2 linked regions of the Homo sapiens genome follow. The protein of the gene in region 1 purifies or fractionates together with the protein of each later gene. This does not show direct contact. Each region holds a gene or a part of one and is shown on either strand. Other genes may lie near its edges.

Region 1 (4,798 bases):
CCGAGGAGTTGGAGGCTGCAGTGAGCTATGATCACACCACTGCACTCCAGCCTGGGCAGCAGGAGAGATCATTTGAGGCGAGGAGTTCAAGACCAGCGAGGACAACAAGGCAAAACCCCATCTCTACCGGAAAAAAAAAAGGAGGAATTCAGAAAAGGCCAAGGTTCCATAGACCTGGGGTAGCAGGAAGTAGGGGACCGGGTTGGCGAGGCCTTTATGGGATGAAGAGATTGAGAAAGGCCTTCAGGAAGAGGCAGAGCTTATTTTTCCTTTTTATTTTTATATTTTTGATACAGAGTTCCACTCTGTTGCCCAGGCTGGAGTGCAGTGGCATGATCTCGGCTCACTGCAACTCCACCTCCCAGGTTCAGGTGATTCTCCTGCCTCAGTCTCCCAAGTAGCTAGGACTACAGGCATGGATCACCACACTCAGCTAATTTTTTTTTTTTCTTTGTATTTTTAGTACAGACAGGGTTTTGCCATGTTGGGCAGGCTGGTCTTGAACTTCTGACCTCAGGTCATCCATCCACCTCAGCCTCCCAAAGTGTTGGGATTACAGACACGAGCCACCACACCTGGCCGGGAGGAGACAGGGTTTAGACTCAGGGTGGGAGGAGGGGAGCCCCTGCTCCTCATCTGTGGCCTCTGTGTCTTCCTAGGATCACCATTAACAAGGACACCAAGGTACCCAAGGCCTGCTTATTCACCATCAACAAAGAAGACCACACACTGGGAAACATCATTAAATCGTAAGTTTCCCGTCACAGGCTCTCAGGGGCTATGTTTAATGGGCCCCTCTGGGCAAAGCACAAGTTCCAAGTCTTCCTCAGTCTCTCTGAGCTACAGGAAGTCCTTCTGGGGGCTTGCTCTGGGCATTTTATAATCTTGGTACCTTTTTATCAAAATGACACCGACCTCCATGTCTTCACATAAGCCACACTTCTGTAGTGGCTTATTCTGTAGATGAACACGTGCATTTACATTCACTGTTTTTTTGTTTGTTTGTTTTTGAGATGGAATTTTCTCTCTTTGTTGCCCAGGCTGGAGTGCAATGGCACGATCTTGCTCACTGCAACCTCCGCCTCCCGGGTTCAAGTGATTCTCCTGCTTCAGCCTTCCTAGTAGCTGGGACTACAGGCCCACGCCACGATGCCCGGCTAATTTTTGTGTTTTTAGTAGAGACGGGGATTCACTGTGTTGGCCAGGCTGGTCTCGAACTCCTGACCTCAGGTGATCCACCTGCTGGCTTCCCAAAGTGCTGGGATTAGAGACGTGAGCTACTGCGCCCGGCCTTACATTCACCATTAAGTGCACATTCTGTAAATGAACGAGCAGCAGATTCCAGCACAGTAGGCCTGTTTGTTATTCATGCTGAGGGACATTGAAAAGCAGTCAAGATTAGCTCCCCTCATGCCACCCGTTTGTGACCTCAGTGCCACCTGGGCCTCTAAGATGTATGTGGCAGAGACTAGAACTTCTATTTAACAAGAGAAAGAAGTAGGAGTTCTGTGGCTATCCAGTGCCCCTAATGGGCACCCTGCATTGGTTGGTGGGTGTTTGTTTATACCAGTGAGGTCCTAGCCAGGTGGTTGGTCAGGGATGTGTCTGCCATTCTGGCCCAGGGACTTGCCATTTTACTGTAGACTTGGCTCTTCCCTCTGGTGCCACCAGCGAAGCCAGGCTTTTCCCCGTCTGTGAGTGGGGTCTGCCCAGTCTCCTGGTGTGGTCAGGCACGGGGATGGAGGAATCCTGCCTGGAGCCCAGCCAGTGGGGCACCCAAGCTCTCCTGGGGCCCTGCTGCTCCCCTGCTCTTGAGCTCAGTGTTGCCACCTATGCACGGGTCCCCCTTGTGGTGCTCACGCCACTCTGAGCCGCTCTAGAGGAGACCCCTGCGTGCCCAGGGCACAGTACGCGACGCAGCCCCATGGCACAAGGCCCAGTGTGCGTGGCCAGCCGCTGGCGGCTGTGCTGCTCGGAGGGCAGAGTTCCATTTGCATTCCACTCACTGCCGGGAGCTGGCCCTCCTCTCCTGCTGCCTTTATTTGCTGCGTGGATGCTCTTTGTGGGCTTTTTGGGTCTGAGTCACTGAACACTGGCTGGACATTCACTGCCTGGGAGATCTCTTTGCCAGCACTGCGGTGCCCGGTGGGAAGAGGTTGCTGGAATCTCTTTCCAGCTCGGGTCCTTCAACCTCATGGATGCAGAGTGTGTGTGTGTGGCGGGGATAGGGTGTCCCCACATGAGGTATCTTCCTAAAAGTGTTACTTTCCTTGAAGACTTTTTGGGAAAAAAGTTGGGGGGGATTTTTGGCTAGAAAGTCTGTTCTTCTGCTCTGAGCTGGCTGCTACCCAGCTTGGGCATGAGGCTAGACCCTCACACTGTCTGTCCCTGGACCTCAGACAACTCCTAAAAGACCCGCAAGTGCTATTTGCTGGCTACAAAGTCCCCCACCCCTTGGAGCACAAGATCATCATCCGAGTGCAGACCACGCCGGACTACAGCCCCCAGGAAGCCTTTACCAACGCCATCACCGACCTCATCAGTGAGCTGTCCCTGCTGGAGGAGCGCTTCCGGGTGAGGGCGGGGCCTGGAGGGGCAGACGGGGTGGGCTGGACACTGGCCCGTGTGCCCAGGCCTGGGACAGCCCTGGCCTGTTTCTTCGGAGGTCCTCAGGGAGAGGCGGCGGTGATGGAAGAACAGGGACTTCCACCACAGGCTCCAGGACATGTGGACTGAGGGGCTGTGGAGTCTGGGCCTGTGGCTCCCGTCTGCCCCATGGGACTTCTGTAGTGCTGCAGGGTCCCTCGGGTGCTGTGGGCCAGATCCGGGCGGGGACCTACTGTCCTTTGGGGGTGCTCTTCTACGTCCCTTGTCGGTGATTGGCAAGGCCTGGTCCTTCCAGGCCTCTGGGAGGCAGCTCACCCCAGGGTGGCCCACACCTGTTCCTAGCAGGGCGCCTGGGAATCTAGAACAGTTTAGAGGGGAAAGAGCCACAGCAAAGAAAAGCCGAGGCAGGGTGATCACGAGGTCAGGAGTTCAAGACCAGCCTGGCAAACATGGTGAAGCCCTGTTTCTACTAAAAATACAAAAATTAGCTAGGCATGGTGGCATGTGCTGTAGTCCCAGCTACTCGGGAGGCTGAGGCAGGAGAATCGCTTGAACCCGGGAGGCGGAGGTTGCAGTGAGCCGAGATTGTGCCACTGCACTCCAGCCTAGGTAACAGAGCAGGACTCCATCTCAGTCAATCAATCAATCAATCAATCTCAGCGGTTGAACTACCCTTGACATGGTTCAGCTCTGTATCCACACCCAAATCTCATGTCAAATTGTAATTCCCAGTGTTGTGGGAGGGACCTGGTGGGAGGTGATTGGCTCATGGGGGCCGACTTCCCCCTTGCTGTTCTCGTGATATTGAGTGAGCGCTTGTGGGATCTGGTTGTTTAAAAGCGTGCAGCCCTCCCACTTCACTCTCTCTGTCTCTCCTGCTCCAACATGGCCAGACGTGCCTGCTTCCCCTTCGCCTTCTGCCGTGATTGTCAGTTTCCTGAGGCCTCCCCAGCCACGCTTCCTGTACAGCCTGCAGAACTGTGAGTCAATTAAACCTCTTTTCTTCATAAATTACCCAGTTTCTCATAGTTCTTTATAGCAGTGTGAAAACAGACTAATGGACCCTTCTGGTTGAAGGAATGCAGCCATTCTGCTTGTTTGACTATGTCCTTTCTATTCATCTCTATTTCCTGGGAGGTGTTTATCCAAGTGCAATAGGAGGTATTGGTGACCGCACAGTCCCCTCAGTGTTCTGCTAGTAAATAGTTGAAGGTTGATCATTGATCTTCTGCGTTTTCAGTCTGGCATGGAAAAGCCCCTGTGCAACTGGTAAAGATATCAATAAGCACCAGGAGGTATCTAAATCCACCAGGAGCCATAGGCATCACGTTGACGTCCATTTACCAGTCTTCCCTGGCAAGATTCTTCTGAATTGTGCTGCCTTGGCCAAAAGAGGTATGGGAGGGGCTGGGCGCAGTGGCTTGTGCCTGTAATCCCAACATTTTGGGAAACCAATTCAGGTGGATCGTTAGAGGTCAGGGGTTCAAGACCATCCTGGCCGACATGGTGACATCCCATCTCTACTAAAAATACAATAAGTTAGCTGGGTTTGGTGTTGGGTGCCTGTAATCCCAGCTACTCGAGAGGCTGAGGCAGGATAATCGCTTGAACCTGGGAGGAGGAGGTGGCAGTGAGCTGAGATCGTGCCATTGCACTCCAGCGTGGGCAACAAGAGTGAAACGTCGTCTCAAAAAATAAAAAAAAAGTCCGGGCTTGATGGCTCACACCTGTAATCCCAGCACTTTGGGAGGCCAAGACGGGTGGATCACGAGGTCAGGAGTTCAAGACCAGCCTGGCCTAGATGGTGAAACCCTGTCTCTACTAAAACTACAAATATTAGCTGGGCATGGTGGCATGCACCTGTAATCTCAGCTACTCAGAAGTCTGATGCAGGAGAATTGCTAAAACCCAGGAGGGAGAGGTTGCAGTGAGCCGAGATTGCACCACTGCACTCTAGCCTGGGCGACAGAGCAAGACTCCGTCTCGAAAGAAAGAAAGAAAGGAAATTCCCCAGGGAAGTACCTCGGCTGATTTCATAAACAGGTACCGAAGGAAGCAGAGGCATGTGGAGGACTTCCCCACCTCATGCAGCTATTTGGGCCGTGGCGTCTGAAATTTATTATTTCAGAGTCACCCCTTTGATGACCTTGGCAGTGAACTGCAGTCATCTGTTTAGGCCTTTCCATGGCCC
Region 2 (3,500 bases), on another chromosome or scaffold:
AATAAGCCATTTAGAGGCTTATTGCTATGCTTCTTGGTAGAGAGAACCTAGTCTTAGCCTGAGTGAGTATTTTTATCTTGATAGTTTTAGGAAAAATCACAACAGTTTCACTCACAATTGATATCAATTCTCTATTCTCCCTTTCTTTATAGTTCTTAGCACTTTAAGTCTGTTCTGTGTAATTCAATATTAAATTGCCCACTGTCTTGTACTGTTTACTGTACTCACATGATCTTCACAGAGGAGAGTTCTTCCTTTAGGGTGGCACTATGTTTCTTTTACATTACCCATAGTGCCTGGTGCAGTGTGGGTCAGCCAATATATATTTACTATTTCACTTAAACCCATAGTATTACTGGCTTTGCATCATAGATATAATTTTCCTTCTCAATTTTAGGCTATTCCGTAAATAAACTATCCAAAGTGAAATATATAATGGCTTGAGCAAATAAAGGTTGCATTCAATAGAAGAGAGAAATAATGTTGTTTAGTGGAGGAGAAAATAGAATACTGTATTTAGATCTGTGACATTGAAAGGTAAGTCACTTACTTTCTCTGTGCCTTTGGATTCTGCAAGGCAATAAATAAAGTCAAAATAATTGAGAAGGATAATTGTAATATAAACACTAACCTGAAAGTTCGAACAAGATTTTTAAGTTGTGTGTAAATATCTCCCAATGTAATCTGAAGAGGAACCAGAAGCCCAGGCAACCTGAAAATTTAAAAATTACATTTATTTTAAAACAAAATTATATGGAAACTTTTTTTGGGTCATGCCTAGATCTGAATTTTCCATAGCTAATAATGGCATTTAGATGGAAGCAGTCATGATTTAAAGGTTAACCTAGGTTATGATTGGTGAGAACTCATAAGGAAACATTCATAGTAACCCCACACTCCACTTTGTAGTCTGTTACTGAGTGTGAAGCACTGAAACACAAAATCATTTTGGCAGCTATTTAAATTCTTGTCCCTAGTTTTACTTACCTGTTTATTTTCAAATATTAGACCAAGATGGAAAGAACACAACTGCCCCCAAAATGGTCCAATCTGAGAGTGTGGTATATTCTTCCTTACTAAATCCCCATGGTGGGAGTGAAAATTAGTACCTTTTTAGGAAGCAATTTGACAATATATATTAACAGTTTAAATGTGTTTGACCCAACAGTTTTACTATGAAAAAAATTTAATCTAAGGAAATAATCAGATGAACATAAAAAATATGCTTGTTGCAGAAATAGCTTTAGTAGTGAAAAATCAGAAACAAATGTGTATCAATAGGTGATTGGTTAGATAAATTATGCTATACCCATTTAATAGAATAAGACATTTAAAATAATGTGAATCTATTTTTTAATATAAAAAGATATTCATGATAGATGTGAAGTGAAAAATGTACATAGTATTATCCTATTTTTATAAAAACATGTATTATATAATACCATTGTACTTCATATATATCAAGCATATTTCATTCCTTCTAGGTTTATCCACAGAGAGAACCAAATAGAATGAATATACATATGCCATATATATGTCAGGGATATACATCAAAATATTAATAGTAGTTATTGTTGAGTGGTGGGATTACAGGTAATTTTTACTTCCTTCTTTAAACCATTTTGTACTGCCTCATTTTCTAAAGTATGTGTTACTTTATTTTTTTAAGCTTCTTTTTAAGACCAGTGTGATAGTATAAAAAGTTTCACACATGTTCCAAAATAGAAAGAATAGTAATAATCCCGTATATCTATTTCCAGATTCAATTTCTTAATTTTTGCTACCTTTGCTTCATTTTTCATTCCCTTCAGCACCCAGGCTGGAGTGCAGTGGCATAATCCAAATGTCAGGCAATAACAAATGCTGGTGAGAAATGTGGAGAAAAGGGAACCCTCATACAGTGTTGGTGGGAATGTAAATTAGTACACCCACTATGGAGAACAGTTTAATCACGAGCATAATCATAGCTCACTGCAGACTCAAACTCTCGTGCTCAAGCGATCCTCCACTTCAGCCTCCTGAGTAGTAGCCCCACAACACCCGATTAATTTTTATTTTTATTTATTTTTTTGAGATGGAGTCTCACTCTGTTGCTCAGGCTGGAGTGCAGTGGTGCGATCTTGGCTCACTGCAAGCTCCGCCTCCTGGGTTCGGGCCATTCTCCTGCCTCAGCCTCCTGAGTAACTGGGACTACAGGCATCCGCCACCACGCCCGGCTAATTTTTTTTGTATTTTTAGTAGAGATGGGGTTTCACCGTGTTAGCCAGGATGGTCTTGATCTCCTGACCTTGTGATCTGCCTGCCTCAGACTCCCAAAGTGCTGGGATTACAGGTGTGAGCCACTGCACTCGGCCGAATTTTTATTTTTATTTTTGTAGAGATGTGGTCTTACTATGCTGCCCAGGCTGGTCTTGAACTCCTGGCTTCAGGTGATCCCCTTGCCTCAGCCTCCCAAAGTTCTGGGATTACAGGCATGAGCCACCACACCTGGCACATTTTTTTCTTATTTTGTAGTAATATTTTAAAGTAAATCCCTGTCGTCATGTCATTTGACCCCTAACTGTTTCCATTTTTATCTCTAAATACAAAGGCACTTTCTTATATAATCACAATAAAATGATCATAACCATCCAAATTAACAATTCCTTAGTGTCATCTAATATACAACATATTTTATTTCCTCTGATACTCTGAAATAAACACTTTTTACAATTGGTTGGTTCAAATAAAAAACCAAAAAAGGTCTAACTTTGATAATGAGAAAAAAACCCAACAGCTTTCATAAACAAACAACAAAAAACTCCTATACCATAATTAGTTTTGTCTTCACTCTTCTTTATGCCTTGGTTAATGTGAAATGTTTTCTGTATTTTCAAACTGCTACAAAATAAAACTTCATATTCACAACCCTTAAATAATGACTGACACACTTTTCCATGTTTTCTGCTAAAATAAGAAAATGCAGGTTGAAAAGTTCAACACAGCCCTCATACCTCTGGGAAAAAAAAACCTTCAAGTTCTTTTTGAAAGAAAAACCAAGATAGCAATTTTTAAATGTCATTTATGACTGGGCTAATTACAAGAACAATAATTTCCACCACGGGAAGTTTAAAGCTAAAGTGCAACGTTGAGTTGAACAAAAACTCATGTTGCTGAGTGTGAAATGGTTCTAAGGATATGCATGCAGAGTGACTTAACAGACCCTTAAAACTTTGTAATAACATCTTATTTGCATCTGAAACTGCTGTGACACATTTACCGCAAATCAGTATTTAAATGGGTCTAGCTTTGATATTTTTTCCCTGACTTCACTGATTAGGTGGGAGTAAGGTAGTTTGGTCTTCTAAACCCACAATCTCAACCTTCCTCTTTATGATGTGCCTCTGTGTCCTCTACACAAAAATTTGTATTTCTTGGATAAAATATCTTAAAAATCCAAATTTCTTAAGTGAAGAAATCCATGTGAACTTTTCACATTATTTTTCAAAATGTTCAAAATC

The links. Proteins that work in one complex are often made in the same cells at the same time.
Region 2: the proteins of POLR2J2 (region 1) and RPAP2 purify together in Homo sapiens (co-immunoprecipitation; one large-scale study listed by IntAct). This does not show direct contact.

What each region holds. Positions count from the first base shown.
Region 1 is NC_000007.14:102,664,866-102,669,663, reverse strand, and holds the end of POLR2J2 (DNA-directed RNA polymerase II subunit RPB11-b1), read left to right. Parts: intron 1-659; coding exon 660-749; intron 750-2,399; coding exon 2,400-2,574; intron 2,575-3,500; coding exon 3,501-3,533; 3' UTR 3,534-3,618; downstream 3,619-4,798. UniProt on the Homo sapiens protein: DNA-dependent RNA polymerase catalyzes the transcription of DNA into RNA using the four ribonucleoside triphosphates as substrates. Component of RNA polymerase II which synthesizes mRNA precursors and many functional non-coding RNAs.
Region 2 is NC_000001.11:92,333,559-92,337,058, reverse strand, and holds part of RPAP2 (putative RNA polymerase II subunit B1 CTD phosphatase RPAP2), read right to left. Parts: intron 713-3,500; coding exon 632-712; intron 1-631.